Linked DNA regions of Homo sapiens. The protein of the gene in region 2 purifies or fractionates together with the protein of the main gene of each other region. This does not show direct contact. Each region holds a gene or a part of one and is shown on either strand. Other genes may lie near its edges. The genes, in order: GAN, NEFM, NES and VWA8.

Evidence for each region.
Region 1: the proteins of NEFM (region 2) and GAN purify together in Homo sapiens (affinity purification with mass spectrometry; 3 studies listed by BioGRID and IntAct, with this or other methods). This does not show direct contact.
Region 3: the proteins of NEFM (region 2) and NES purify together in Homo sapiens (co-immunoprecipitation; 3 studies listed by BioGRID and IntAct, with this or other methods). This does not show direct contact.
Region 4: the proteins of NEFM (region 2) and VWA8 purify together in Homo sapiens (co-immunoprecipitation; 2 studies listed by BioGRID and IntAct, with this or other methods). This does not show direct contact.

The regions. Positions count from the first base shown.
Region 1 is NC_000016.10:81,310,600-81,318,265, reverse strand, and holds the start of GAN (gigaxonin), read right to left. Parts: upstream 3,305-7,666; 5' UTR 3,153-3,304; coding exon 2,986-3,152; intron 1-2,985. UniProt on the Homo sapiens protein: Probable cytoskeletal component that directly or indirectly plays an important role in neurofilament architecture.
Region 2 is NC_000008.11:24,908,868-24,916,934, reverse strand, and holds the start of NEFM (neurofilament medium polypeptide), read right to left. Parts: upstream 3,175-8,067; 5' UTR 3,142-3,174; coding exon 2,062-3,141; intron 1,949-2,061; exon of another isoform or gene 1,638-1,948; intron 1,331-1,637; coding exon 1,206-1,330; intron 1-1,205. UniProt on the Homo sapiens protein: Neurofilaments usually contain three intermediate filament proteins: NEFL, NEFM, and NEFH which are involved in the maintenance of neuronal caliber.
Region 3 is NC_000001.11:156,668,263-156,674,407, forward strand, and holds the end of NES (nestin), read right to left. Parts: intron 5,266-6,145; coding exon 5,192-5,265; intron 4,944-5,191; coding exon 1,060-4,943; 3' UTR 501-1,059; downstream 1-500. UniProt on the Homo sapiens protein: Required for brain and eye development.
Region 4 is NC_000013.11:41,880,861-41,888,198, forward strand, and holds part of VWA8 (von Willebrand factor A domain-containing protein 8 isoform a precursor), read right to left. Parts: intron 6,502-7,338; coding exon 6,337-6,501; intron 5,971-6,336; coding exon 5,921-5,970; intron 5,169-5,920; coding exon 5,060-5,168; intron 2,632-5,059; coding exon 2,527-2,631; intron 1-2,526. UniProt on the Homo sapiens protein: Exhibits ATPase activity in vitro.

The DNA.
Region 1 (7,666 bases), on a different chromosome or scaffold from region 2:
ACTTTTGAACATTCAATTCACAGATTAATGATATCACAGATCTAAATGCTTAAGTTTCAAAAGGGAAAGATAAGAAACATCAAGTTCTAGAATACATAAATATATTTTGTTTCAATATAATTCTCTAAAGTGCTATTCAAACAAACAAGTACATTATAAAAGCCCAATATTATTGGTATTAAAATTACCAGTAAAAATACAAAATTAACAAATTTCTTTCTAGTTAGTGATACAGATTCGTCAAATTACTTTGAAACAGCTTCGGAATTGATAATTTTTAAAAACATCCCAAGACATTCTATCACTTCAATAGCCAAATAAACTTAAAGCAATTCATCTGTCACTGATGAAACACATATTGACTGATTCATGTTTATCCACAAAACATAAAAAAAAAAAATCTGCCTTCTCTTTAAAGATGATTGAAAATGGAAACCAAAATGACACAGTATGTAAAAGTGCTTGATAAACATTTTAATTCTAAGATATTGTAAGCCAGCTAACAGTAAAGTTTACACAAAGAGAACGGTGAAATACAAGTAATGCTCTAACGTGGTAGGGCAAGAGTAGGAAGGCGGTTAGCCGTAATTAATTTGGAGTCTAATCCTAGTTCAACCATTAAGTACTAATAACCTCATAACACAAGTCACTAATGTCCACTGAGCCCCTATTTTCTTATTTAGAAAGTGAAAGAACCGGACTACAGATATTTCCTAATTCAATGGGTACTACCTTTGAAGACATGGGAACAGACCTATGAGGTGTCAACACTATTACGTATTTCTTCACAGGTGTGATTAAATGAGAAGACTCATTTTTATCCCTCATTCATCAGATTAGTGAGCTGAAGCCTTGTCATCTACCAGCAACTCACAGCTAATATGAGTAAAAGCTGGAAGCACAAAGCGGGTCTTCAAACTCTGAATCCAGTGCGTTTCTCAATTAGGTATAACTGAGCGTCTGTGTACTATGAAAATGTGATGGTGCCAATTTTCTAATGTACACATTTGCTGTGGTAGAAAGAAAGGCAGTCATTCATTCAATACATTAACTGATAGGCACAGTTCTTTCTGGGTGCAAAGAGTAAAGCAGTGAATAAAAGAAAACACCGCCGGGTGCCACGGCTCACGCCTGTAATCCCAGCACTTTGGGAGGCCGAGGTGGGCGGATCACGAGGTGAGGAGTTCGAGACCAGCCTGGCCAACATGGTAAAACCCCGACTCTACTAAAAATACAAAAATTATCCGGGCGTGGTGGCGGGCGTTTGTAATCCCAGCTACTCGGGAGGCTGAGGCAGGAGAATCGCTTGAAACTGGAAGGCGGAGGTTGCAGTGGGCCGAGATCACGCCACTGCACTCTAGCCTGGGCTAAAGAGTGAAACTCAGTCTCGAAAAACAAAACAAAACACCACGACCTCATTGAGGTCACACTGTGGTTGGGAAAGACCACCAAAGTAAATGTGTAAAATATGGGGTACGTCAAAGTGGTAAGTGCTATGGAGAAAAACGAACAAGGATAACAAGCAAGGATTCGGCAATTTGCAATTTACTTCTTTTAAGCCAAACGGATGCCATTTAAAGAACTATAACAATAATGCATCTAAAGTAGTTTTCTTCAGCATTTTCCCAAACAGGGAAGACTTTGGTCTGCTGACTCCAATTTGGGATGGGTTGCTCAAACCTCGGAACTGCCAGCTAGAAGCTGTCTGTCACATTAGCAATCCAAATTCTGTACTAACGATGCTACCCCAGACCCTACTGCCGCCCCGCCCCCCCACCCCTCCACACTCCCCACCGCCAAAGAGCGCAAATGGATTCACAAAACAAATCCAAGAGAAACCAGAAGTTACAAGGGCACTTGAATTTCTTCTAAGTTTAGCACAGATATCTCCCCAATGCAAAGGTTAAAAGTGTAGCGTGCGTGGTGGTTTTGCTGGGACAAAGCGCTAAGAATACACATCATTTTGCTTTTTCTGACCTGTCAATTGTAGTGATATTCTCTACCACTAGCTTATATTTAACCAGCTTACTGGTCAGTTTCTCCAGTTTTTAGCATTCCCCCCTTTCCTTTTATTAAAACAGCAACCTAGTTTGCAAGAAGGTTGCTAAAAGAAAAGATAGTCTCCTGCAAGATCTGATACACTTGTATAAGCACTGTCTTATCAACCTTTTAATTAACCTGGTTAGTTGAGTTGGCAAATCAGGTTAAGCTTTGCTTTACTAAAGTATTAAAATGCCCTTTGTCGCAAGGCTCTCACGGTCCTCGGGTTGTAACAGCATCCTGAGAATTCGCTACAGTTTACTTCAACGTGTAACTCCTCTTTTAAACAGTTACCAGAATGGAGCGGAAAAGACACGTTTGGCAAGGAGAATTTCGCCCGGAGGTTCGGACTACCAACCCAAGGAGAACATCGAGAGGGTTTTCTCTGCCTGCACCCAGCGAGGCGCTGTCTGTCTGGCCTCCCAGCGGGCAGGGCGCTCCCCGCCTGGTTGGCGGCGCCGGCCCAGCCCCCGCGCGTGGATTCAGAGGCGAGCGACTGGCGAACTTCAGCGGGGACCGCGGGCCCGGCCTGGGCGAGGGGGTGACTCTTCCCCGGCGCGGCCTCGCCCAGCCCGCAGGTGCGGGTCCCGGCCGGCCCAGGACGGCGTCTGGGGGCCTCAGGGTCTCCGAGGTCGGGCGCTCGCCGCGGCGGTGGGAACCGGGAGGGACAAGGCGGGGGATCGCGGCCCGGGTCCGGGGACAACTCCAAGGGGCGCGGGGGTCCAGTGGGGAGCGCGGGCCTGGAAGCCACAGAGGCCGCCTGGGGGACGCGGTCAGCGGGGCCGGGTTCCGGCGCTTGCCGGGAGGGACGCCGCGCCAACGGTGACGCGGGGACCCCGGCGCCGGGGACAGGGGACAGGGTCTGGGGGCCACGCCCGGCCCGGCCGCCCCGCCTCCGGCTCCGGGCAGCACCGCCGCGCCCGCCCGCCGTAGCCCCCTCCCCACCTGATGTACGGGCTGGCCGCCGCCAGGATGTTCTTCTGCACCGGGATCTCCTCCCCGTCGAGGACCAGGTGCGCGTCGCAGAAGCGAGACTCCTCGCGGAAAGAGCTGAGCGCTCGCAGCAGACGCGCGGCGTGCTGAGGGTCAGACACGGCACTGCCCTCAGCCATCGCGGCGCCCGCTCCTCTGCCGACGGGTCCGGCTCCCGACACCGTCCGGCCGGACCCCTCGAGCGGCCCGAGTCCTGCGCGCGCGCCCGCCCGGCCCGGCTCTCCGCGCTCTGAGCAGAAGCTGGAGCCCCCGGGACGTGCCTGTGCTATCCGCGGCGCGCTGGGCCGGCGCCTTTAAGAAGCCGCGTCATGAAGTCATTTCTCCGCGACGCCCCCGCACCGTCGCTCCCCGCCTTCTCGCCTCCGCTGCTGGAGATGGCCAATCAGAAGCCTCCTTCCTCCGCCCGCCTGACCAGCTGCGGCTGGGTGCAGCGGAAGGTGTCTACGGATGAGATAGGTCGCTCCCGCGATGGAGGGATGTGCGGGCGGGCTAGGATTCCGTGGTTAAGCCTGTGGCCTCTGGAGCCGCGAGTTTGAATCCTGGTTGCAGCTGTTCCACTTACTAGCTCTGTGGCCATGGGTAAGGTGCCCATCCTCAGTTTCTCCGTCTGCAAAATGAAAGCGAATTCTTAGTGTTGTTGTGGACTCATGAGATGATGCATGGAAGCAAGGGCGAAGTCGCTGTAGCTTTCTTTATTTATGAGAGAAAAGGAGCTGCCCAGGTGAGAGGACAAAAACCCGAGAAAACAGACCCGGAAAAGATGGTTTTGGTTGCGGGCTAGGAAGGAGATGTAGCAGATGAAGCTGGAGAAGTCCGAAGGAGGCCTTAAATTTTGCAGGGCCTCCTTGGTGTGGGAAGGAGTTTGGTTTCTGCAGTGGTGAAGAACCATGGAAGTACCGTATTTAGCAGGGGATTTTGTGCAGGTCACTCAGCTCCTGCGTGGAGAATAAGGCGGGGATGGATGTGCTAAAGGCAGATCGATGCTTAGGTATTGCAGGACTAGAGAGAAGGGAATGGGCACCTGGATGAAAGGGTGATGCGGGGGCGGGGGTAGACAATAGTGGATTGTTTTAAAAGAAATTGTGAGGGAGAGGGAGTTAAGGATAAATATTCTGTTTGAGTAACTGCATGCATGTTTGCACCTTTCAGGGAGAGCTAGGAAATGCTGAAGGGGTGGGCAGTAGAGAGGCAGATGTTTAGATTCAGACAGGCTCCCAACCCAGTGAAGATCAAAGCTGTGATAGAAAGGATCGCTGGGTCAGCTCAGCTGGCAGGCCAAGCCCCACGGTATCTGAAGTTTCCCTGGAGGTTGCTCAGGGCACATGGGAGTGTGGAATGTAGCAACCATTTTGTGCAAACGTTAGGGACTCCATAAGCCTCTAAAAAATTAGCAATTGTATGAGGACTCCGGACCAGAAGAATGTGGCTAGCATTCCAGGCAAGACAGGATGGAATTTTCACTGTCCTTCAACCAACTGAAAGGCTCCAATAAAGTCTTGGGTATTTACCCTGAACCAGCCAAGGCTTTGGAGTCACTGGCAGGAATCCGAGTATCTAACTGTTTTCAGGGCAGAATAGATGGGGAGGGTACGGCTGTGGAAGACACATGCATTTCCACTTTCTTCTGTAAATGCAGCTCAGTGTTCCCGGATGCAATGATAAAGATGTCTAGGATTTGCTTCAAAACAAAACAAAGGGATGGGGAAGCAGATGGGAGTGTAGATGAGTCAAAAGTGGCCGCAAGTTACTAATTGTTAAAGCCACGTAATGGGGATGTGGAGATTCGTTGTACTGTCTCTATATTGTTGTGGATGTTTAATGGGGATGTGGAGATTCATTGTACTGTTTCTATATTTTTGTGGATGTTGAAAAATATTTTCTTCTTTCTTTTTTTTTTTTGAGATGGAGTCTCCCTCTATTGCCCAGGCTGGAGTGCAGTTGTGCAATCTCTGTTCACTGCAACCTCCGCCTCCCGGGTTCAAGTGGTTCTCCTGCCTCAGCCTCCCAAGTAGCTGGGACTACAGGCATGTGCCACCATGCCTGGCTAACTTTTGCATCTTTAGTAGAGATGGGGTTTTACCATGTTGGCCAGGCTGGTATCGAACTCCTGACCTTGTGATCCGCCCACCTTGGCTTCCCAAAGTACTGGAATTACAGGCATAAGCCACCACACCCGGCCGAAAAATATATTTAAAAAGGTAAGAAACACACAAGACAAGCAGCTTGGACTTATCTTCTCCATGATACCTACCCAGTATCCCTGTGAGCAGCTGACATTCCTTTCTCCAAGCAGTTGCTGTATTTTGAACATTGCTCGAGCAAGAAACTTTTTATAATGGGTTTATTTATCCATGTCACCTGCTATACTATGTTTATTGTAGCTCAGCATGATTTCCAGGTACCAAGCACAGTACTTGGTGCGTAATAGTGCTAACTGAATGTTGGATGGATGGAGGGATTAAAAAAAAGAAAAACACCTGAATATCAGACACTTAATAAATGTTTCTTGGGAGGCCGAGATGGGCGGATCACGAGGTCAGAAGTTCGAGACCAGCCTGGCCAACATGGTAAAACGCCGTCTCTACTAAAAATACAAAAATTAGCTAGGTGTGGTGGCAGGCACCTGTAATCCCCACTGCTCAGGAGGCTGAGGCAGGAGAATCACTTGAGCCCGGGAGGCAGAGGTTGCAGTGAGCCGAGATCACGCCATTGCACTCCAGCCTGGGTGACAGAGCAAGACTCTGTCTCAAAAAAAATAAAAAATAAAATAAATAAATGTTTTCTGAACTGTATTCTCTATCTGTTCTTAGTTAATTTGTGTTTGCCATTTTTAAAGTCAAAAACCAGGGAGAGTTCTCTACACAATGTAAATATTTGATAAGTACTTATTAATTGCTTATTGTGCTAGTCTATTCTTTAAATATCAGAGGTTCCAAAACAAAGAGCTCCAATAGTAGGATCACAGTCAGGTAACCAATTATCCGAGTAGGAAGGTTGCCTTAGTTGAAGTAACTGGAGGTGAATGGGGATTTGTCAGGCAGGCTCTTCCAGATAAAGGTGAACCTTCCCTGTTGTTTTGATAGAAGGAGGAAATGGAATGACCATCAAGAGAAAGGTAGTTGCTGGCTTGAGAGGATCATCTGTGCAACAGGCAGCTAAGCAGAAGAAGACTTTATATATATTTTTAATACCACCCACACTGTTGCTAGTATTCCCCACCACTCCATTGGCCTGGTGAACTCTTATTCATCCTTCAAAACCCAGCTTAACCATGGCCTTCAGGAAATCTTGAGCTGGCTTCCCAGGACAGAGTGGGTCAGTCCTCTGCATGCTCCTGCTGCTGTGCTGTACTCACCATACTGTACTGTAATTTACTGGTTTGTAAGTCATTTCCACTGCTGGGTTGTGAGCTCCTCCAAGGCAGGGGCTTTGCCTTATCTGCCTATGTTCCCAGGACTTACACAGTGCCTGATGTGTAGTAGGTACCCCATGAATGTTTTACATAATTAGCAGGAGCGTATCAGGTAAATTAGCAAAGCAAACTGTGGGATGTGGGATGTCAGACAATAGGAGTAGGTGGGCTTATGGGAGCTGAAGAGCACATGCTCCTCAGCTCTGATTGATTGCTCTGTGCGATAGGGGCCCAGTGGTGGTGGATCTAACAACTTTTTAAGAGATTCTGACAATTCAGACTTTACATGTTGAATATTCCGGATTTTCAACATTAGCAACTAATTCCATTTGGAGGAAAAAATGTAGCATGGGTCTACAGACAAGATCTGGCTGTAATTCATGTTCAGAGGTAATCAGGAAACGATTAGTTTACTGAAAATGTAGTCGACAATCAAATGGCTGCTAGGTTGCCAATAAAATGTGTTGAGTGGAATTCACATGCCCCAGAAAGCTCCTCCTGGTGCTGTGGGCAAGGAAGAGGGCCCAAGTGTGGGAAGAAGGATTCAGGAGGCAGAGCCAACTCTCCCAGTGCTGCCGGAGCCACTCTTGCTTGAGCTGAAGTACTGTGGACTGTTTTGCAGCCTTCTTGATATTGCTCAAACTGAGCCACCCTTGATATTGTGCCTATCAGAATGATGGATTAAATGTTATTGTTTCCTTATATTCCATAGGCATCAGATATCAACTGTCATTGTGAAACATATTACAATGTAAGAGATTTGATATTGTCCTAACAGCTTTAGTCTCTGGTGGCTTTACTGAGCTCTTCTGGTTTAGAGGTGAAACAACCCAGAGAAAGGATTTATTTATGTATTCGTTTTTGGTCTGAAGACCAAAAAGGATGTTTGCAAGATATTAACAGTAATCATTCATTCAACAACTGTTTTTAAAGCACCTGCTGTACGATACCTGCTACAGATACAGTGATGGTGAAAGTATAGTTGTCTCAGTGTTATTATAGAAGCTTTTACTCTGTATTTTCCTCGATTTCTATTTTCTGTACTGATCATGCATAATTTTTTACAATCATTAAAAAAACAAGAAAGCAATGTCTTTTTGCAAAAAGGGAAAAAAAAGCTTTCTTTTGCTTTGAAAAATGTGCCCTCAAGAGAGGAATCCACTTGGGGGGTTGGGCTTTTATTTCCTAAAAACTACTTAGAGAGTCCAGTAAGAGAAATAA
Region 2 (8,067 bases):
TGAATTCACTATAATACCTGCTATCACTTACTGGCATATTACATTATACTCAGTGACAGAGAAAGATTCTCCTGGACTGCCAGACAGTTGCCCCCTACAATGACTAACCTTGCCCAATAGTCCACTAACCACACCCAGCTACTAAGTCTTGGCCCTGCAGTAGAGATCCATTAGGTACAACATGAATATGCTGAAAAACTTGTTAGTGGCCAAATAGCAAAAAACAAAAACAAAAACAAAAAAACAAAAAGCCATAAACAAAACGCCCCCAAACTCCAAAGCCAAACAGCCTTTCTGAGAGTAGTCACTTTCTTAAACGTTTAGATTTTCAGGTGTATCGAGTTATAAATTTGTTGATAATTTTTATCATAAAGTGTCTATTTAATGTAGTTATTCAGCTTTCCTGAAAAGAGAGATAGCTCTGTAAATGCAATTTATTCTCGTTATATTATAACTACCTTATTGGTAGCAGAAAAATTTTAATCAACGATTTTGTCCTTTGCGCTTAGTCAACAGCAAGGTCACTTCAGTTAATAGACCTATAACCTATCTCACTATCTATAAAACGATCATATATATTTGTGTCTATATATCTAGATTTATATGCATATGCACATATGTGTATCTATAGATCTAGATTAATATCATACATGATATATTGATATAATTTATACTACAGTCTAGCATAAAATATAATACATATAAATTATCTACATATATAAAAGAACTATATCTATATTCTATCATTCTATATCTATTCTCAGCCAGATGATGGCAATAGTAAGCTATATAACAGAGAAACAGAGAAATAGAACGTCCTGGTGTTTGTCCTTGACATTATACATTTGAAAAGCTGAAACCACTAGATGAAATATTAGAAACCAAAACTCTGTTCATGCTTCCAGCATTTGAAAACATTTTTCCATAAAAAGTTTAAGCATGTGCATTGAGATTAATCTGCACCTCCTTTGTGTAATTCAAAAACCTTTTGTTTCTACTAGTATTCATTCTTTTAAAGCTGCATAAAAAGAGATAAAACTACACTTGCAATTCTTTAGAATAATTTCTTTTTAAGTAAGCAAGATAACCAGGTGCTGAGTTGATGCCTGCACCCTGCCTGCTTTAACTTAAGTGGTGGAAGCTCTGCCGGAACAGCCTCTGCACTGCGGTTAGTGTTCCGGCCACGCACGTAGTAAGCATCGTACCTGTACGCAGCGATTTCTATATCCAGAGCCATCTTGACGTTGAGGAGGTCCTGGTATTCGCGCAAATGACGAGCCATTTCCCACTTTGTGCCCCGAAGCTCATTTTCCAGCTGCTGGATGGTGTCCTGAAACAGACACAGAGAATCTCCCCAGACTCATCCTTGCAAACAGCAACTTCCTTCGCAAACCACTTGCTACCCCTTCCCCCTGGCCTCCTCCCGTCTCCCTCCACTTCTGCAAACCTCGCTGACACCTGACTCCCAGCCCCCCGTCCCACCCCCTTTTTCTTTTAAATCTAAGCGATTCTCAAATGAACATACAAGATCAGTAAGACAATAGGACACTTCCTGGGCACATCACGCACGGAGACCAGTGGACTTAGAACACGTCTCAACAGGACACAAACATGCATGGGGAAACTCCATGGCTGACCTGGCCATTCCCATCTGAGCCCTTTGGGCTGAAGCCAATTTTGAGAGCTCTTCCGATCACTGCCGGAAAAGTAGAGAATACACGCGTTTCTGCATAAGCTATCCTAAAGTTGCTGATTTATCCACTACCGAATTCATCCCTCCTGCTTTAAACGTGCAAGCGTGCAAAATTAGAACTGGAAAAGATGCACGTTTCTGAAAAAGGTCAAGACCCTTAGCAGCTGGGGCAGGTGGGTGGGGGCGGAGTGTGGAGGATGAGATGGGCGAGGACGCTGATCCGCAAATACCCTAGGTCTGCGGCGCGCGTGCTCTAGCGAGCGGCCACCAGGGAGCGCGGCGGAGAGGGCGCCTGGGCACGAGCCCAAGTGTCGGGGGCGCGCGGCGCTGGCGCTGGCGCAGGCTGGCCGCGCAGCCGCGGTTCCTACCTGGTAGCTGCTGAGGTCGTGGTTGTGGCGCTCCTCGATGTCGCTGAGCTGCCGCTCCAGGGACTCCTTGGTGCCGCGCACCGACTCTAGCTCGATGCTCTTGGACTGCAGCTGGCGCCGGTACTCGGCGATCTCTTCCTTGGCGGAGCGGATGGCCTCCTTGTTCTGCTCGGCCGCCTCGGTGAGCTTGGCGTAGCGGCATTTGAACCACTCTTCGGCCTGGTGCATATTCTGGTCTGAGTGGCTTTCGAGCTGGGAGCGGATTTCCTTCAGCGCCGTCGAGATGTCTGTCTTCAGGTAGTCTTTGCGCTCCACCGTGATGTGCGATGCCTGGATCTGGGCCAGAAGGTCGGCCACCTCCTCCTCGTGGTTGCTCCGCAGGAAGGCCACCTCATCCTGCAGCGACTGCACCTTCTTGTCCAGCTCCACCTTGACCAGCGACGCCTCCTCGATGTCTTTGCGCAGCGCGCGGATGGCCGCCTCAGTGTCGTCGCGCAACCGCGCCTCCTCCTCAAAGCGCTCCTTGAGCCGGTGGATGTCTTCCTCCAGGTGGTCCGAGTCCAGCTGCACCTGAGCCTTCTCGTGGTTCACCATCTCCAGGGTGGCGCGCAGCTCGCGGATCTCCTGGTCGTACGCGTCGCCCAGCTGGGCGTGCGAGGCCTGCTTCTGCCGCAGCGCCTGGATCTCCGCCTCAATCTCCTTATTCTGCTGCTCCAGGTAGTGCACCTTCTCTATGTAGCCGGCAAAGCGGTCGTTCAGCCCCTGCAGCTGCTCCTTCTCGTTGGAGCGGGACAGCTTGTAGTCGCCGCCGGGTCCGGAGCCGCCGTTGAGCAGGGACGAGGACTGGCTGAAGTCAAGGCTGCTCTCGGCGGAGCTGAGCATGGCCGAGCTGTAAGCGAGGCGCGGGGCGAGCATGCTGCGCTTATAGGAGGAGGACACGGTGCTGGGCGAGCCGCGGGACCACGACTGCGAGCGGAAGCCACTGGACGGGGAGCCGCTGACGCGGCTGAAGCTCGAGCGGGTCTCGGTTACCCGCCGGTAGGCGGACGGGTTGCCCAGCGAGTCCAACGTGTAGCTCATCTTGGAGGCCTTGGGGCGTGTGGCTGTCACAGCGTTCTGCCGGCCTCGCCGCAGCCCATTTATAGCCGCGGCGCTGGTCCCGGGCCAGGGCCCCGCCCCGTGGAGGCGGCGGCCGAGGAGGCGGGGACTGCGGGCACCGGTCGGGGAGGAGGGGAGGGGGGCGGCTGAACGGTGATTCAGCGCCCGCTCCACGTGGGCCCAGGCCGCATGGGAACCTGGACTTTTCTGCCCTGGGCCCAGCCCCTCCCCCAGGTCCCCTTTCAGTCCCAGGCTACTTGTAGCCGGGCATTCGCCTTCTTTCCATTTCTCACCTCCCGATTGCGTTTCGCACCCTTGGTGCGAATATCGCCAGCGCCCTTTCTTTGTCACTGTCCCGCCGTTCAGGCAGCGCTTCCCCGACCCCGTGGTCCCCTTGTTCTTTAGCCTTCTACCCTCTTATCCTCAAGGCTTTCTCTTATTTTGCCCTTTCCCTGATACTTTTTTCTTTACCCATCTTCTGTGCTTAATTTCATCCCCTTCTTTTTTGGCCCCTCTTCTCCTTCCTACTCTGGCCTTTAGTCCAGTTCACCCTGCCCTTCTCTCAGCCCCTTCCTCGGAGATCCTTTTCTTCCAATCTTTCCTTCTCCCCGTCTCCTCCCTCCTTCCCCTTGCATTCCCTCTTTTCCCCTCCCCCACCCTCATCTTTTCTTGCCTCCCTCCCCTTCCCCCACCCCTTGTCTTAAAGCAGCTGGAGATGAGCGCCGAGGAGCTGGGTCTAGAAGACAAAACAAAACAAAAAAAAAGACTTTGCGGAACGGTCTGCCTGAAGGCTTCGGGAAGGGGACAAAGAGAACAGGCCGGGGTAGTTATTTGTATAAAAAGTGGGATATGGCGTTTTTAACGTTTGGGGGACGTCCGCAGCTTCCGCAGGGGCAGAAGGTAAGGCGCTTGTGCTCGCTATGGCGCCGGCAGCACCAAGGACAGCGCCCAGGTCGGCGAGTGGGAGGTGCAGCCACCCGGGGGGCTTGTCACCCAGCCTGGCCTGTCAGGTTGGCAGGGGGCAGGGGGTTCCCTTCCCCCTCTTCTCTCCGAGTAAATACAATTTAAACCTGCCTGTAGTGACTATCTTTGCAGGAGCGAAGCTGGAATCACAGGCTAAGACTTCCCTGCAATGCAGGGTTGGCACAATGGACAGATCGCAGATTTTGAAAACAACCAAAATTCATTAAAGTCAGTTAACAGAAATATATACTTGTAGCCCAGTTTGAGTTTTCTAACATATGGTGGTATAGGAAATGAAGAGATACAGGGCCTGAAATGTGAAGGTCAAATACTCCTTGGAAAGGAGAATTTGAAATCTGTTGGGATGAAAAGTCCAGGGAAATATAGTTTTTCTTAAGTTTGGACACAGACAATTGCCTTGTCATCTTTCGGTTCAGTATTCCCTATGTGTAACTGCAATGATTGAAAAGGCATCTGAATTAACTTTAAATTGATTTAAAAGTTGCGGAACAGAGTCACCACAACCTTGAATAAAATCAGATGTTTTCCCTTCATTTAAAATGTAATATATTTTTCGCTTTAGATTTTAATGATTGATTTGGAATAGATTTTCTATATCATTAAACATGTTTATGCAAACAAGAACTCTACACAGACTTCTTGCTGTCTGGTGTACTCCTGTTAAAATGTCCCTTTATTTTGGGTAGTGCTTTGGGGGTAATTCAGGTTAAAAAAGTTCAGAATACTACAAGATAAAGTGAAGAAGAGATTGCAGAACTAACAACAGCGCTGGGGCCACAGGTACAAGTGACTGAATGTGCAACGCTTGCTATGGGTGAGAAGAAACTACTGCTTATAAAAAGTAGGGACTCCAGACCGAAATAGCTTCTTTTCACAGCATGTTTCCTTAAGTCCCTGTTTTATTAAAAGACAGGATCATATTCATCAGTAAGTAATCAGGAAAGGGGTGGGTTTCTAGAGGTTTTATTTTTTATTTTTATCAGCTCCCTTGGCCCATCTGTATTAAAATAGAAATAATGTTTTAAACAGGAGGTGCTAATTTTGGGAGTTACTTTGGTTTATTAATATGAAACTGCAGTATCGCAGGCCATGTAGGAGAAGGATGTTCTAGTTTGCTGAGAGACCTTAGGCAAGCAGAGCCCATCCATGTCTTGAGTTGTTGAGAGAGACAGATGATGGAATGAGGGGACTGACTTGTGAATACTGTAAAAACAGGATTTTCTGGTTTTATGTAGATAAATAAAGGCAAGGAGAAAGAAAATTCCCTGCCTTCTGTAAAGTATTGCGGATGTCAGGCTGGACTCAGCAGGATACCATCTAGATAAGGCCAAATGCTAATTATGCAGTAATTTTGCCTTTGTTGCTTATTACTTTCTGCTTTTATTGAAATATATAAAAATCCTTGGCAATTTCATGGTGCACATTCACTGCAAACTCTGCAATGAGAGTACATGGTTAACCGGCAGCCTTCTGCTGTTAATTTTCTTTAGGGCTTTGGAAACGAGATGACTCTGCAGAGAGACATTTACAAGGAAACACATGTCTAACTTCACAATTACCCAGTTTTGCCTTGTATCTGAAGTAGCTGAGAAATTGTTCAGCTTCCAGCTGGTTACAGAAGGAGGAAAGTGTTGCGTACAAACAAAATAAGTCAGTTACTCAGGCTACATCTAGTGCCTATAACTTAAAATTGTAACTTCAATGTCACATGATATATTGTTCAATCTGGGCACTACAGGATAATGCAAAGAATTAAAACAGTTGTTTTATTAAGAAAAAACAGTTCCCATGGCTTAAAAAATGATGGATCCAGTTTCACATTTAGCAAAATGTTTTCTTTTATATTAAACTCTTCCACTTTAACTACTCTTCCTAAAGGTGATTTGAAGGTTATACCCATCAGTAAATTTAGTATGAAAACTTTTTTTAAAAAGCTATAAAAGATGTTTTTCCCTTTTTGTCTCATAGTTTTGAAGAATATTTACCATCTTAATAGTTTTCACAGAAAGAAATGCTTTTGCATTTTTTTAAACCCTAAGAACACTAAGGCTATGAAATCTTCTCAAAATATTAAAAAGAGAGAAAACAATCATGGCAACTCACCCGGATTAACCACACTGCATTCATGGAATTAAGTTTGACTACGATACTTTTGTAATTTATTCTAAATAGAAAAGTTTCTCATATGATTTAGATGTAAGACATTTTAAATGAAATTATCTCTGAATTGTTGTTTCATAAGCTACAGTCTGTTTTGAATCACTTTATAGAGAAATACAAGGCATGCTCCAATCTATATGTTCCTTCAGTAGGGAAAGTGAAAATGTTAACTTTGCAGCTAAGAGATGATAGCCACTGTCAGGTTTTGTAGGGTGTCATCTAATACTGGGAAAATATCATTTGCAAAGGTGGTATATTTACTGGGTCATAAAATAAAGATAAAAAATAAGGAGTTAGGCATTTTCTCCCATCTTTCCCTATTTCCTTACATTTCTTCTTTTAAATAGCATTTTTGGATATAAAAAAATGCAAGGAGGATGGGATGTAGGAACTGGATAGCAAGAAAGATACTCCAGATGGACAACGTCACTTTCAAATTGGTAGGCTGAATCCATCCAAGATGAGATGATCTGTACTTTCTTTCAACCTATTGTGTCTTGAACTTAATCCGTTTGCCTGGGATCTGGTTCTAGAACTCATAATAATTATTTATAACCTGTCCTCTGCTAATTGTTTAAGGGGTTGTTGATGTAGGAAGCTAGGGACTTAGTCTGCCGAAGCAGGAACACAAGAAAAAGGAAGCTATATTACATATTTCTACTTGATCCTCAGGATGTCAAACTTTAAAAGCAGTGTTGACTTTTGATTTTGTTGTTGTCAAGAGTTGAAAGCAAAATAAAAATATTCTCAGGGGAGAAAGACTGTTTCTTGTCAGGGAAATTGGGATGTATATGTATGTCCCTATTGTCTTTGATCAAAACAAATCCATCTAGACCACAGTGTTCCTTTTCTGTCATTAGGCCACTGAAATGGTGTTTGTTTCCCTTGCCAAATATTTTATTCTTTGAATATTGCCTTCTATTTGTCAGTTACTGTTATGATGAAGTTAATTGAAGTATTTACAAAACTTAAAACATTTAATCTTTATTATATTCCAAATGTTAAATTAATCAGTTTTAAAATTCTATATCTGGAAATTTCATGTGTGTGGTGGGGGAAAATTTAGCTTTTGGCTTTAACATAGCTTGCTGATTTTTTTGCTGTGTAATGCTTTCACCTCTCCACTGTGAATCCTTTCTGTGAAAGCCAGGGGAGAAAGATTTAGAATTTTAAAAAAGTACTTAATAGAGCCTTGGTAAAAGTGACTCTAAAAATAAAGTTCAGTAGATGCATAATAAAAGAGTACTCCTGTATTAATTTTCAGCATGTTTTTAACTGAACCCATTAGCTTTACCTATAAAGCAGCAACAGATGTTGATGATATGCACTTGAATTTTGAAAACCCTGCCTTGCACGTAACTGCACCAGTGCAGCTATGAAATATTTATGACATATTTTATCCCAAGCTTACCAAGGCCTGACTTAGCAAGAGACATAATTCTTTTATTAGAAACTCTTAATTAAAATGAGCTTCGTAAAACTAGAGCAGATCAATGATCTTTGGACCAAATTTCTGAAAAGAGCTAAACCTGGGAACAGAAAGTCACAAAGAAGCCCCACCTAATAATTCAGTCTCATTGTCCCAGGACTGGGTGATTTTTTTTCAATCTCTGCAAATTTGAAAATCAATATTCTTTCATAATCCTTTGAAAATGGGCTCACTGTCATAGCTCTGTCTTGTCACTTAGCTTATTAAGAAGAGCATCTATTTTAGAATACTTAACTCACTTTTTTGGTTAAAATTTATATATATATGGAGTGTAG
Region 3 (6,145 bases), on a different chromosome or scaffold from region 2:
TGCTGACCTGAGGCCATGCAGCCAGACTGAGGAAGAACAGGCCTGCCTCTTCCCTCACCCTGCTCCCACCCAGTCAGGCTGAGGAGATCAGGCCAGACAACTTGTTTGGGTTTAGAGACAAGGGGGCTTATTATGCTGGCGGCACCAAGGCACTAATGGGGGGGGGTATACAAGGGTGGGGGTGGCCCCAAGGCCTAATCCCTGTAATCAGTACTGTGGGCAGAGATGATGATGGGCCTGGCTTCTGCAGGCGCTGAGGTCACCTGGACTGGCCTCCCCCAGCCAAGCAACAGCCCCTGGCCCTCCCCAGGCCCCAGCACTGCTCCCTGCAGCTTGGGTCTGTCTGCCCTCATCCCCCCAGGTCCTCCTCTCCTCAGGAGGCAGCCCCTCCCCAGCACCAGCTTCCTCCTCTCCCCCGCCACCCCCCGCCCGCCCCCGCCATCTCTCTCCTGTACTAACCCTGAGGGTCCCCTCTGAGTGGGGGAAAGAAGAGTCCAGACTTTGAAGCGGAGGCATTACTTTATTCAGGCAGGGACTAGCCAGGCAGGGCCACAGCGTGGCAGGGATGGGGGGAGTCAGCACATGGGAGTGCCGTCACCTCCATTAGCCACAGGCCAGACGGCCCAGGAGGGCGTGCTACTGCAGTGAGATGGTGCACTACTGCAGTGAGGTGGCGCAGGGCTGGTGAGCTTGGGCACAAAAGCCAGCATGTCACCCTCCCTTTGGAGAAGCCTCTGGGCCACAGGCCTTTTCCAGCTGACGGGATGCGGAGGGAAGGGGACCTAGTACTATCGGGATTCAGCTGACTTAGCCTATGAGATGGAGCAGGCAAGAGATTCCCTTTGCAGGGTGGGAGGTTATATTCCTACAGCCTCCATTCTTGGAGTAGGCTCCTTTGCCACACCCCTTTTCACCTTAGCGGGCCAGGCCTCTCAGCCAGAAACCATATGTCAAGAGATCGTAAGTTAAGAGTGCTGCTCCTGAGCAGGGAGCGGGCTTGGAGGCGTCCTTCCCCTCCCCGCACCCCTAAGTCCCCAGTGCCGGGCAGATGGTCTTTTCCTAGTCCTCCCCTGAGGACCAGGACTCTCTATCTCCTTCCCTCTGAGTGAACTTCAGGAACTGACCCTGGCCCAGGTGAACAGGAGCCCCTGCCCAAGAGGTCTTCAGAGCACTCCCCTCCTCCTCCTGAAAGGGGCTCCCTCGGTCTCCCTCAGAGACTAGCGGCATTCCTTGCCCCACTTCCTCAGACTGCTCCAGCCCGTTCATCACTCCCCCATTCACATGCTGTGACTTCCCCTCCAAGTTGGGACCCTGGCCATTAACACCAATGATGTCTGCCCCTGGGCCTGCATCCTCCATCCCACTGGGGATCTCTAGAGGGCCAGGGACTTTGTCCTCCCTCTCCAAGGAAACAGGGTCAGACTCTTCCTCTGAGCCAGAAGGCTCAGCACTGTCCTGGGACTCCGTTTCCAGGGCAGTCTTGGGGGCACCAGCCACTGCACCCCTCAAGCTGTCATCCCAGGGGACACTGACACTCACAGAATCAGACTCCAGGAATTCCCCTCTCTGGGAGCTACTCAGGGCCTGGAGGCTGCCAACAGAAGACCCTGGCCCCCACCGCCCAGCCCCTGGCTCCCTCCCCTCCTCCTGATCCTCCTCTCCCTCCTCCCCACTTTCTTCCTCATCTGCAAACCCATCGGACTCCCCATCTCGATCCCAGGCTGCAGGATCCAGTAGCAGCTGGGGCACCTGGCCCAGAGGTTCTGCCACCTCCCCAGGGACCCCAGGAAGAAAAGGTGCCTCAGTCCCCAGGTCCTCAAATTCTTCTGACAGGTCAGAGTCACGGCCACACTCCTCTTCTCCCTCCTCCCCCTCCTCCTTTTCTGAGGGTGGGGCCTCAAGGCCCTCGGAAGCCAGGACAGCAGGATCCCAGCCCTCCTTTCCAGTCTCCCCTTGAGGGGGTGGCCTCTGCTCTCCAGTGGGGTCCCACCTGGGGGAGGTGGGGGACCTGAGGTAGAAGCCCAGGGGAGTGGAGTCTGGAAGGGTCTCCCCGAGCTCATCCTCCTCGCTCTCTTCTCTGCTCTCCTCCCCTTCCTCCTGGGGGCCCTCGGGGATCTCCCCAGAACCCAACTCCTCCTGCTCGCTCTCTACTTTCCCCAGGGCTTCAGCCCTCCCCTGCACCCCCCAGCTAGCCTCCTGACTCCCTTCAGCCTGAGGCTGAGGCCCAGGGGCATCTTCCAGGATCGGGGTGTACGTTGGGCTGGGGGAGACCAGCACTGGTGGTACATCCTCCTCAGCTTCCTCTGACCCCAGAGGCCAAGGTGAAGGGGCATCACTTCCAGTGTGGCCCAGGGTCTCAGCAGGGAACGCCTCCTCTGCTCCCCTGGGGGCCTCAGCCTCTGACTCCTCCCTACCCTCCCTGGGAGGCTCCCAAGGGTCTCTGCTCTTCCCAGGCAGCTCGGAGAACTCTGTCCCCAGACCACCTGCCTCCTCTAGGTCCTTTCTAGGCCCTTCCAAGCCCTGAACCCTCTTTGCCTCCAAACTCTCCTCTTCCAGGGGTGGTTCCATCACCTCTTCCCTGGTCAGATGGCCTGGGTCCCCCAGCCCTCCCACCCCCTGCCCCGGGCCTGGCTCAGCTCCCGCAGCAGACTCACCCATGGCAGGCTCTGACCCCAACATGACCTCTGGGGAGGCTTGGTCACCCCCTGGGGCCACATCATCTTCCACCAGGGGCTCTATCGCCTCTGGCAGCCCCTGGGGAGCCTGGAGGCCTGGGGCCCCCACCTGTTGTGATTGCCCTTCAGGGTCCTGGAGGCCCTCAGCCCCTCCCTTCACACTGGCTCCCTCAACCAGGCCTCTCTGCTCTTTGGGCTCAGGGCTCTCTGGGTGCCCCTCGCCTGGGATCCAGACCTCCTCTGTGGCATTCAGCTCTCCCTGCTCTACCACCTCCTCCTTCCCAGTGAAGCCATCCTGCTCCCTCAGATTCAGCTCTGCCTCATCCTCATTTTCCACTCCAGCCATCCCAGGAGGGCTTTCCTGAGCCAGTTCTTGGTCCTTCTCCACCGTATCTTCCCACCTCTGCACATCTGCAGACTGCGGCAGCTCCTGTCCCTCCTCCTCCAGAGACCTCAGTGACTCTTGGTACTCTCCCTTTCCCAGGTTCTCTTCCTCTTCCAGATTCCTTTGACTTTCCTTGTCTACCTCCTCTGGAGATCTCAAATTCTCCAGGTTCCATGCTCCCAGAGATCTCAATGATTCCTGATTCTCCTCTTCCAGGAGTCTGAATGTCTCTTGGTTCACTTCCACAGACTCCAGTGGTTCTTGAATTTCCTTTTCTAGAGGATTCATTGCCCCCTGATTTATTTCTTCTGGAGTCCACAGTGGTGCTTGAGTTTCTGGAGATTTCAGTGTTTCCAGGTTCTCTTGTCCCGCAGACTTCAGTGATTCTAGGATCTCTGTTTCTAAAGATTTTACTGCCTCTACGCTCTCTTCTTTGAGTGACTTTAAGAACTCTTGATTCTCATTTTCAAGAGGTCTAGCTATCTCCTGGTCAAGAGACTTCAGTGGTTCTAGATCCACTTTTTCTGGGGGTCTTAATGTCATCTGATCCTGTTCCCCTAGAGACCTCCGTCGCTGTTGAGTCTCTTTTTCAAGAGTTCTCAATGTCTCTTGGTCCTGTTCTTCTAAAGACCTCAGTGATTTGTGATTCTCTGTTTCTAGAGGTCTCACAATACTCTGGTCCTCTTCTTCTAGAGTCTTCAGTGGCTCCTGGTTCTCTTTTTCTAGAGATCTAAAGGCCTCTTTGTTCTCATCTTCAAGAGACCTCAGGGGTTCCTGATTCTCCTTTGTCAGAGGTCTCAGTGCCTCCTCATCCCCTACTTCTGGAGATCTCAGTGGCTCTTGATTCTCCTTTTCCAGAGCTGTCAATGACTCTAAGTTCTCTTGCAGAGAACTTACTAATTCTTGATTTTCCGTTCCTGGAAATAAAAATGTCTCTAGATTACCTTCAAGAGATTTCATTAGTTCTTGATTCTCCTTTTGCAGGGATTGCAATGTCTGTGTGTCCTCTTTTCCTGTAGGCTTAAGTTGGCCTACAGCCTCTTTTTCTAGAGGTCTCACTACCTCCACATCCTTTAATAGCTCTTTATTTTCCTTTTCTAGACTTTTTAGTGTTTCTAAGTCTTCTTCTAAAGACCTCGGACATTCTTGATTCTCCCTTTCTAGTGTCTCATGGCTCTGGTTTTCCAGAGTCTTCAGTGACTCTTGAATCTCCTCTCCCAGAGACTTCAGGGTTTCTTTTTCCAAAGGAACCTGGGAGTCCTGGATTTCCTTCCTGTTTAGATCCTCTTCTTCCCATATTTCCTGCTGCAAGCTGCTTACCACTTTGCCCTCTATGGCTGTTTCTTTCTCTACCAACCCCCAGATTTGCCCTTCACCTTCCCCTCGGCATATGCTGAACACTCTAGACCCACCGGATTCTCCATCCTTAGCCTCTAAACTGGAGTGGTCAGGGCTGAGGGGTGGTGCCAAGGAGGCATGGTCCTCTGGGGACTGGCCTGTACTGGCCTCTTGCCGCTGGCCCCCAGGCTCCTCTGGTCCAGGCAGGACGCTGGCAGGAATGGCCACCCTGGCTTCAGCCCGCAGGGGCTCTGGAGCCTGTTTCCTCCCACCCTGTGTCTGGAGCAGAGAGAGAGGAGCATCCTGGGCTCTGATCTCTGCATCTACAGCAGGAGAGGGTGCCTGAGGTGTGGGGGGGATGGGGGTGCTGGCCAAGGTAGGGGTACGGGCCTGGAGGAATTCTTGGTTCTTAAGAAAGGCTGGCACAGGTGTCTCAAGGGTAGCAGGCAAGGGTGAGGGGAGGGAAGTTGGGCTCAGGACTGGGAGCAAAGATCCAAGACGCCGGCCCTCTGGGGTCCTAGGGAATTGCAGCTCCAGCTTGGGGTCTGGAAAGGCAGAGGGGGAAGAAACAGCATCAGTATATCACTGGCAATGAGGGGAGCCACAGAGCAGCCACCGCTGGCAAGAGTATCCATGCGCCTGCCCCTGGCGCCCATGGCTGGGCTGAGAGCATGCTCACTGACACTGGAGGCCACGGACTTGAAATTTAGATTGGTGCCTCTCGGGAAAGATAGGTCTGGGTATGAAGAGCAAAGCAGGGTAGTTTCTGGGGGAACTTGGCCCCTCCTCTTACCCTGAAAGCTGAGGGAAGTCTTGGAGCCACCGCCAGGTGTTTGCAGCCGGGAGTTCTCAGCCTCCAGGAGGGTCCTGGAGAGGACAGAGGGAAAGTGGGGTCAGCCCTCTGCCCCCAGGCCTGCAGGCAGCAAGCCAGCTGGGGACAACTCAGGCTGAGCTTGCACCATCCAGGCCCTGCAGGCTTCCTCTTCATTTGACACTGTCACACAAAAGCCACACTCAGGGTGAAATCACACAGTCACATACCCACAGACATCACACACTTGGTCACACAAAGTCACACTGTATTTGGGATACACAGCAGAGCTCAGACATAGAAGCAGATTCCCACACAGTCGGACATTGCCCTACACACACCCACACAAGGCTTAGGCTAGCCTCCTCCTCCCACCCCAGGCCAATGACCTCATCCTCTGTGTGGGGGACCGATTCTCATGCTAATTGCTGCCATTGTCCAAGCCACCATCTGGAGGGTCTGAGAAGGAGAGGATTCTGGGGAAGTGGGAATTCTCAGGCCGTTCCCATGGGATGGGCTCCCTCCTCCTTCCCCGGTGGCCCCCAGAGCTAGCGACAGACAAAAGCAAATGAATTCAGCTCCCCCTCTCCAAATCCTTTTCATGCCTCAAAAAATAGCAGTTAAATTCCTCGGGGCCCACCAGACCCTTCCCCTTGGTGGCTTCACTGGGGGTCAGGGCCCTCATCTCAGGATCTCTAAGCACTCTGGATCCCAAGCTCTTCGGGGCACAGAGGTCTTTGTGTCCAGGCCCCTTCCTCAGCGCCCCTTGAACCAAAGAGGGGAGCAGGGACCAATCAATTCAATAACTTAGGATGAGCAGCTGCTCCTCTCTGCTTTGCTCCATGATCTCTGAGTCTGGTTAGCACTCGCTGTAGCCTCACCTCTGTCCTTGCCAGTGCTGCGGCCTTCCTTCTGGGCTTCTCTTCCCTGGCGGTG
Region 4 (7,338 bases), on a different chromosome or scaffold from region 2:
GGGAGATATTCAGAGATTATGTCAATACCCTGTGTCTCATAGAGGCTCCACCTGCCAGCTTTAACATCCTTTGATGACTCCTGTCTAAATTAACTGCCACTCTGATGGTTGCCAAATGGTGTTTTTTCTATTTATGTAATTCCTTCTAGATTCACAAGTAGGCATTTTACACTTTAAAAGAGAACTCCCATCTCCATATTTTTTGTTCATTTCTATCAGTATGGACTCATGGATTCCTATTTTATGTAACAGGTTAAAACCAATTACCATCATCATTTATTTTTATGCTCAAATTGTCCCAGATTTCAGCCACTTCAACCTGGGAACTCCATCATTTTGACATATCGACATCATTTGTTGAATATTTCCTTACTCTCTGGCACAAAAAGATGGTCCAGGCTCATCTTCTGCATTCCCTGACCTAATCCTTTTAGAGAGCATGGTATTTAGAAACCAATGTCCAGGTACTTGGTATGATCACTGCTACTAGAACATCATAGTTTTTTTTTGCCGGGGGGGGGGGGGGGGGGGTAAGGTCACAGATCAACAGGATAAGAATTTTTCTTAGTACAGAACAAAATGAAAAGTCTCCCATGTCTACCTCTTTCTACACAGACACGGCAACCATCCGATTTCTCAATCTTTTCCCCACCTTTCCCCCCTTCTGTTCCACAAAACCGCCATTGTCATCATGGCCCGTTCTCAATGAGCTGTTGGGTACACCTCCCAGACGGGGTGGTGGCCAGGCAGAGGGGCTCCTCACTTCCCAGTAGGGGCGGCTGGGCAGAGGGCTCCTCACTTCCCAGTAGGGGCGGCCGGGCAGAGGCGCCCCTCACCTCCCGGACGGGGCGGCTGGCCGGGCTGGGGGCTGACCCCCCCACCTCCCTCCTGGACGGGGCGACTGGCTGGGCAGAGGAGCTCCTCACTTCCCAGTAGGGGCGGCCGGGCAGAGGTGCCCCTCACCTCCCGGACGGGGCGGCTGGCCGGGCGGGGGGCTGACCCCCCCACCTCCCTCCCGGACGGGGCGGCTGGCCTGGCGGGGGCTGACCCCCACCTCCCTCCCGGACGGGGTGGCTGCTGGGCGGAGACGCTCCTCACTTCCCAGACAGGGTGACTGCCGGGACGGAGGGGCTCCTCACTTCTCAGATGGGGCGGCTTCCGGGCGGAGGGGCTCCTCACTTCTCAGACGGGCGGTTGCCAGGCGGAGGGTCTCCTCACTTCTCAGACGGGGCGGCCGGGCAGAGACGCTCCTCACCTCCCAGACGGGGTCGCGGCCGGGTGGAGGTGCTCCTCACATCCCAGACGGGGCGGCAGGGCAGAGGCTCTCCCCACATCTCAGACGATGGGCGGCCGGGCAGAGACGCTCCTCACTTCCTAGATGGGATGGCGACCGGGAAGAGGCGCTCGTCACTTCCTAGATGGGATGGCGGCCGGGCAGAGACGCTCCTCACTTTCCAGACTGGGCAGCCAGGCAGAGGGGCTCCTCACGTCCCAGACGACGGGCGGCCAGGCAGAGACGCTCCTCACTTCCCAGACGGGGTGGCGGCCAGGCAGAGGCTGCAATCTCGGCACTTTGGGAGGCCAAGGCAGGCAGCTGGGAGGTGGAGGTTGTAGCGAGCCGAGATCACACCACTGCACTCCAGCCTGGGCACCATTGAGCACTGAGTGAACCAGACTCCGTCTGCAATCCCAGCACCCCGGGAGGCCAAGGCTGGCGGATCACTCGCGGTTAGGAGCTGGAGACCAGCCCGGCCAACACAGCGAAACCCCGTCTCCACCAAAAAAATACGAAAACCAGTCAGGCGTGGCGTCGCGCGCCTGCAATCGCAGGCACTCGGCAGGCTGAGGCAGGAGAATCAGGCAGGGAGGTTGCAGTGAGCCGAGATGGCAGCAGTACAGTCCAGCTTCGGCTGGGCATCAGAGGGAGACCGTGGAAAGAGAGGGAGAGGGAGACCGTGGGGAGAGGGAGAGGGAGAGGGAGAGCAATCCTATTTTTTTAACTAAATATGAGAACATCATAGTTTTTAGGCTGCCTTAGGAGACAGCTAGAAAATATGTGTATGTATACATATACACATACTATCTCTATCTATTTGTTCATATATATTGTTTAAAAAAAGTCATGATTCATAATAACACCAATTCCAATCCAATACCTTAGAGTTTTTTCTTGCCTTCCCCCTTTCCATGGTTATAAATCCCTCATCCAACAGTGAGAAGCATAACTCTTATTATCCTTAATATATTCATTCATTTGCTCAATCTATTTACTTATTTGCTCAACATAACCAATCTCCCAATCACACCAGCCCCTGTGTGTTTGCTGCCCTATTTATCACAGCTGTCTTCTTGTTGGAATGCTGATACCTCCATGCCTGGTAAAGAATGGAGGGGAAGGGAAAGGAAAGAAATAAGGATGGGGAGAGAAAAATAGGAAAGGTGGGGAAAGGAGTGAGGGGAAGATGGGAAAAGGCAAGGGAAGGGAAAATGGGAAAAGAAAGGAAAGAAAGGGAAGCAGACACTCACCTTTAAAACACCTTCCACAGCCATCTTCCCTTCATGACCTAGTAAAATACTATATGGATAAAGCCACTGGATTGCATGTTTGATTGGCATCATAGGAAAGGAATCCTATGTAGGAGCAAAAATACATAGGAATGAGCAAAATTCAAAATAATCACAGAAAACATCTGAAATGTACATATGACATTAAAATTGACTTATAAAAGTAACCAATAGGTGTCTGGTATTTTCTGTAAGTCTACAAAAGCAAATATTCATTATTTTCTCTTCTCATTCCTTGCCCTTTCTCTGGGTAAGCTTACCCATTCCCATCTTTCATTTATCTTCTATGTATTGATGGCTCCCACACTTCTATGTCTGGTCTTGACTTCTTTCTTGAGCTCTAAACCTGAACCCTCAATTGTTCATTACATGTGACTATATGAATATCCCATAGACCCCCATTTGAAACAGAATACATGTCTCTACCTTATTCATCCCAAAGTACCTGATCCCTTTTTATTCCTAAGTTAATCTCATCCACATTCACTTAGCTTCACAGTTATAACTACAAAATTAGAAAGTATTCATTATCCTCAAATCCTTCCTCACATTATCTGCACTGTCAATTCTGTTCACCCCACTTTAAAAGTCTGTTGACAAGAAAGATTAGTGAAATTTCAATATGAACTATCTATTAGATGATACTATGGATTACTGTTAACATGATATGAAGTGTGATAATGTTGTTCTGGTTATGTAGAAGAATGTCCTAATTCTTAGAAGTTGCATACTGATATGGTTTGGCTGTGTCCCCACCCAAATCTCATCTTGAATTGTAGCTCCCACAATCCCCACGTGTCATGGGAGGGACCCAGTGGGAGACAACTGAATCATGGAGGCAGTTAACCTCCATGCTGTTCTCATGATAGTGAGTTCTCATGAGATCTGATGGCTTTATAAAGGGCTTTTCCCCTCCTTCACTCTGCACTTTTCTCTCCTGCCACCATGTGAAGGACGTGTTTGCTTCCTCTTCCACCACGATTGTAAGTTTCCTGAGGCCTCCATAGCCTTGCAGAACTGTGAGTCAATTAAACCTCTTTTCTTTATAAATTACCCAGTCTCAGGTATTTCTTCATAGCAGCGGGAGAACGAACTGATACACACACTGAAGTATTTAAGAGTACTGACTGCAATTTACTTCCAAATGGTTCAGGAAAAAAAAAAAGAAAAAAGCACATGCAAACAAATGTGGCAATATATTAATAATGGGTGATTGTAGGTGAGGGGATTATGAATGTTTTACTGTTTTTCAACTTTTTTTTACATTTGAGAATTTTCAAAGTAAAATGTTCTAAGCAAAAACAAAAGATTTCATAAGAATTTTCAAAATAAAATGTTCTAAGCAAAAACAAAAAGATTTGATAAAAGTATAAGATTTGATAAACAGGAGGAGAAATTCTGTTCTGGATGTATAGAACAATGTCAACAATACCTAGGCTCCCTGACTCACATGAAACATACATATATACATACATACATACATACATACATACATACATACATACATACAAGTTTAAAAATAAGTCTCTTGCCTAAGATAGTATTCCCACTATCTTGGATGGTGCCCTCCTCCACAGGGTCTCACTGAGTGTTACAAAAGCTTCCTAGTCATTCCCTCACTTCCAACAAAGGTGTCTTCCTCCAACATAAGTCTGGTCACATTCATAGCCCACCAACTTAATATTGTCTGATAAGCCACTTTTTCCATATCATAAAATCCAGGAAACTTCATTCATCATGCAAAACATTTCACAATAGCGGTCTGACTTCTCCCTCTACCACACACACTTGCTTTAGGGATACAACTTATTCTCATTCTCCAAAGATACTAGGCCCTTTTGTGATTAAACACATTTGCCTGTGCTTTGACTTCCTGGGCCTTTTATCACTCCAGACATGACCGCCATGCCCTTTGTGAAACTGTAGTGGACAATGTCTGTACTCTATCAGATCCCCTCAGATCTGTTTGCATTCTCTCTTGTGCCTCCTAGCTTTCTCTTCCAACAGCAATTGCTGTAGGTCTTTCTAAGAAGACGATCCTTGGGCTCTTGAAGCCACCCTTGCACACATGCTGGGAGAGCAGTTAGTGTCTGGGAATTTGTGTCCCCTGAGACAACCATGACACAGAGACTGATGGAAGCTAGAACAGTGTGAAAGCCCTAGCTCCCCTAACTCAGGTAAGGACAGCTCTGAGGCCTAACTCACACTGCAGCACACCTCTTACTTGATCAGGCTAAAGCCTTCCTTCCCTCTGTAGAACTTTACTGAGATTGCATGTCTAGCTCCTACTCCAAAGCTGAAAGCTCTTTAGGGGCTCAGAACATGTCCTTGGTCTCTGTACAGTTTACTGCACTGCACAACAAATTAATCTCAGGCCTTACAATATTTATAGAAGAGTATGACAAAAGCAAACTGAAGTCATTAATCCCTAATGATTAACTTTCAAAATTTTTAACATATTTGGGTATGCCAGTCATTAATTTATTTTACTTACCAAGATTTGAACCGCAGCTGCTAAACTATCTAAAGGAAAGTCTGGAAGTCCAAGAGTAGAAGATTCTTGGGAACACAGAGTTGTGGCAAAGGACAAGAGCTGAGAAACTCTAAGGGAAAAATGATATTAAATTTTAATAGTTTTAAAATATAAAATGTGTAAGTTGTTAAATATAAAATACAGGGGCCAATTTAATTAATCTAAAAAAGATCCCTAATATTAATTCTTAAGGAACAATGGTTCCGCATCATAATATCCTACTTAAAACTCAGAAGCTGATTAGATGCAAATATATTCCTAAATTCATCACAATATTTGAGGTTTTTCACCACCTGGTCCAAATCTACCCTGCCAGCCTCATCTCTCACATTTCGTAATCCCAAACCTAAACTCTAGCCTCCAAGAGTTTTTTATGGCCCTAAAAACAAGGCATAAACTCTCACATTCCATGCTTTTAAAACAAACAAACAAACAAAACAAAAAAAAAACACTTGTTGTGTTCGAATTTCTTGATTCCACTCTCTATCTGGCAAAAACTTGCTCATTATTTAGGACCCATTTCAAACACCAATGCTTTTATGAAGCCCTTATAAAGTCTCAACTAATGCCCCCAAATATTTTCAAATTATGGCACTTACTATACCATGTTAACCAAAGCTATTCACATATCTTTCAACTCTATTAGATCTTGAGTTTCCTGCCAAAGATATCTTATTAATTTTATCACCAAACATCCTAATACTGAAAAATTCTTATAAGAATTCTAGTTGTTGAATGACTGAATTAATTAATCAATCAATCAATGAACAGGCAAAACAAATTCAATATTCAGTGTCCAGACATTTATAAAAATATACTTACTTCTCAGCAGAAACATTGGCTCCAATTGAATATAACAACTTAAGTTGGTCCTAAAGTAATACAGAAACATATTAAATTAATTAACAAGAAATGTAACAGATTAAATGCAAATGTTTTGTAGATACAATCCAACCTTTTAATTAAGCAGACACTAAATATTTAACAGCAAAAAATCATTTATTGATACATTTCATTTTCTAAAAGAAAAGCCAGCCTTTTAAAAAAAATCCTTCAAATAATGCCATAATAATTTTTCTTCCTAGTTTCCAGAGCTTTTCTTTACTCTTTATTCTCATATCTTTCCATGACCTACTCAGGAAGACATTCAAAACTGCAGTAACATTTTTATAGCATTGAAGTTCTTGTTATAAATAGAAAAACTGTTTAACAAATAAATTATCCTTGGTCTTACTTACCTTGAAGGGTAAATAATAAATATCCCTGGCTTGAAATCGAGAACGAAGAGGGGGGTCTAATGGATTCCCAGAATACCTTGGCACTGGCAAGCCCAAGGCAATCACTCGGAAATTTTCACTAACTCGGACAATTTTCCAAGAATCCAACTCTTTTTTGGTATGATCCTATAAAAGTAAGAGATCCGGAAGCTATAGCATAAATGATACAAATCACAACTGTAAGAGCTGCCAAGTCCAGGGACTTAGGACTTGACTGTTGAGAAAACTGTATTGGAGAACACTCTCAAATCCATACTGTCAAGGAAGGCAGCAAAGTGAAATCAGGTTCAGGATGCCAGGGCAGGCTCACAACATGAAGACTGGGGTGTTTGAAAGGAAAAGCAGTTAACACACCAAGGAATAAAGGAGACTTGGGTCAGATCTCCAAGCCTTAGTCAGTAACACAGAGGAAAACAGTCAGGGGGTAAGGAAAATACATGACTAGAGGTTGTAACAAAGGTAGTCCCCGACGGGCAGATCACCAGCAAAGCTGTGATTGATTACCAGTGGACCTTAAATAGATAATTATGTTTATGGTTATTCCTAGCAAAGCATATTACTAGCAATAACTAACATGTTTTGGAAACTTACTATGTGGTAAGCACATTCCATGGATTTTTCTCATTTAACTTTCACCAGAATCCAATATAGACTATCTCCTTTTTATATGAATGAATGAATCAAAGTTCAAAGGAGTTATATAACTTGCCCATCGTCCTGCAACTAGCATACAGTGGAGCTTAGAGAATGGAAACAGTATGGGTTTTAGAGTCACAAATCCTGGCTCAACTGCTTGATGTACACTTTTACTAAATGTTAGCGTATGCATGGTATTATACCTTTGGAACCTTAGCCTTCTTAGTAGGAAAAATATCACCTACATTATTGTGACTGCTAGGAAAACTAAATGTGTAAATGTATGTGCAAACAAGTGGCCCAAAGGAGGCACCTGTTAAATCTCAT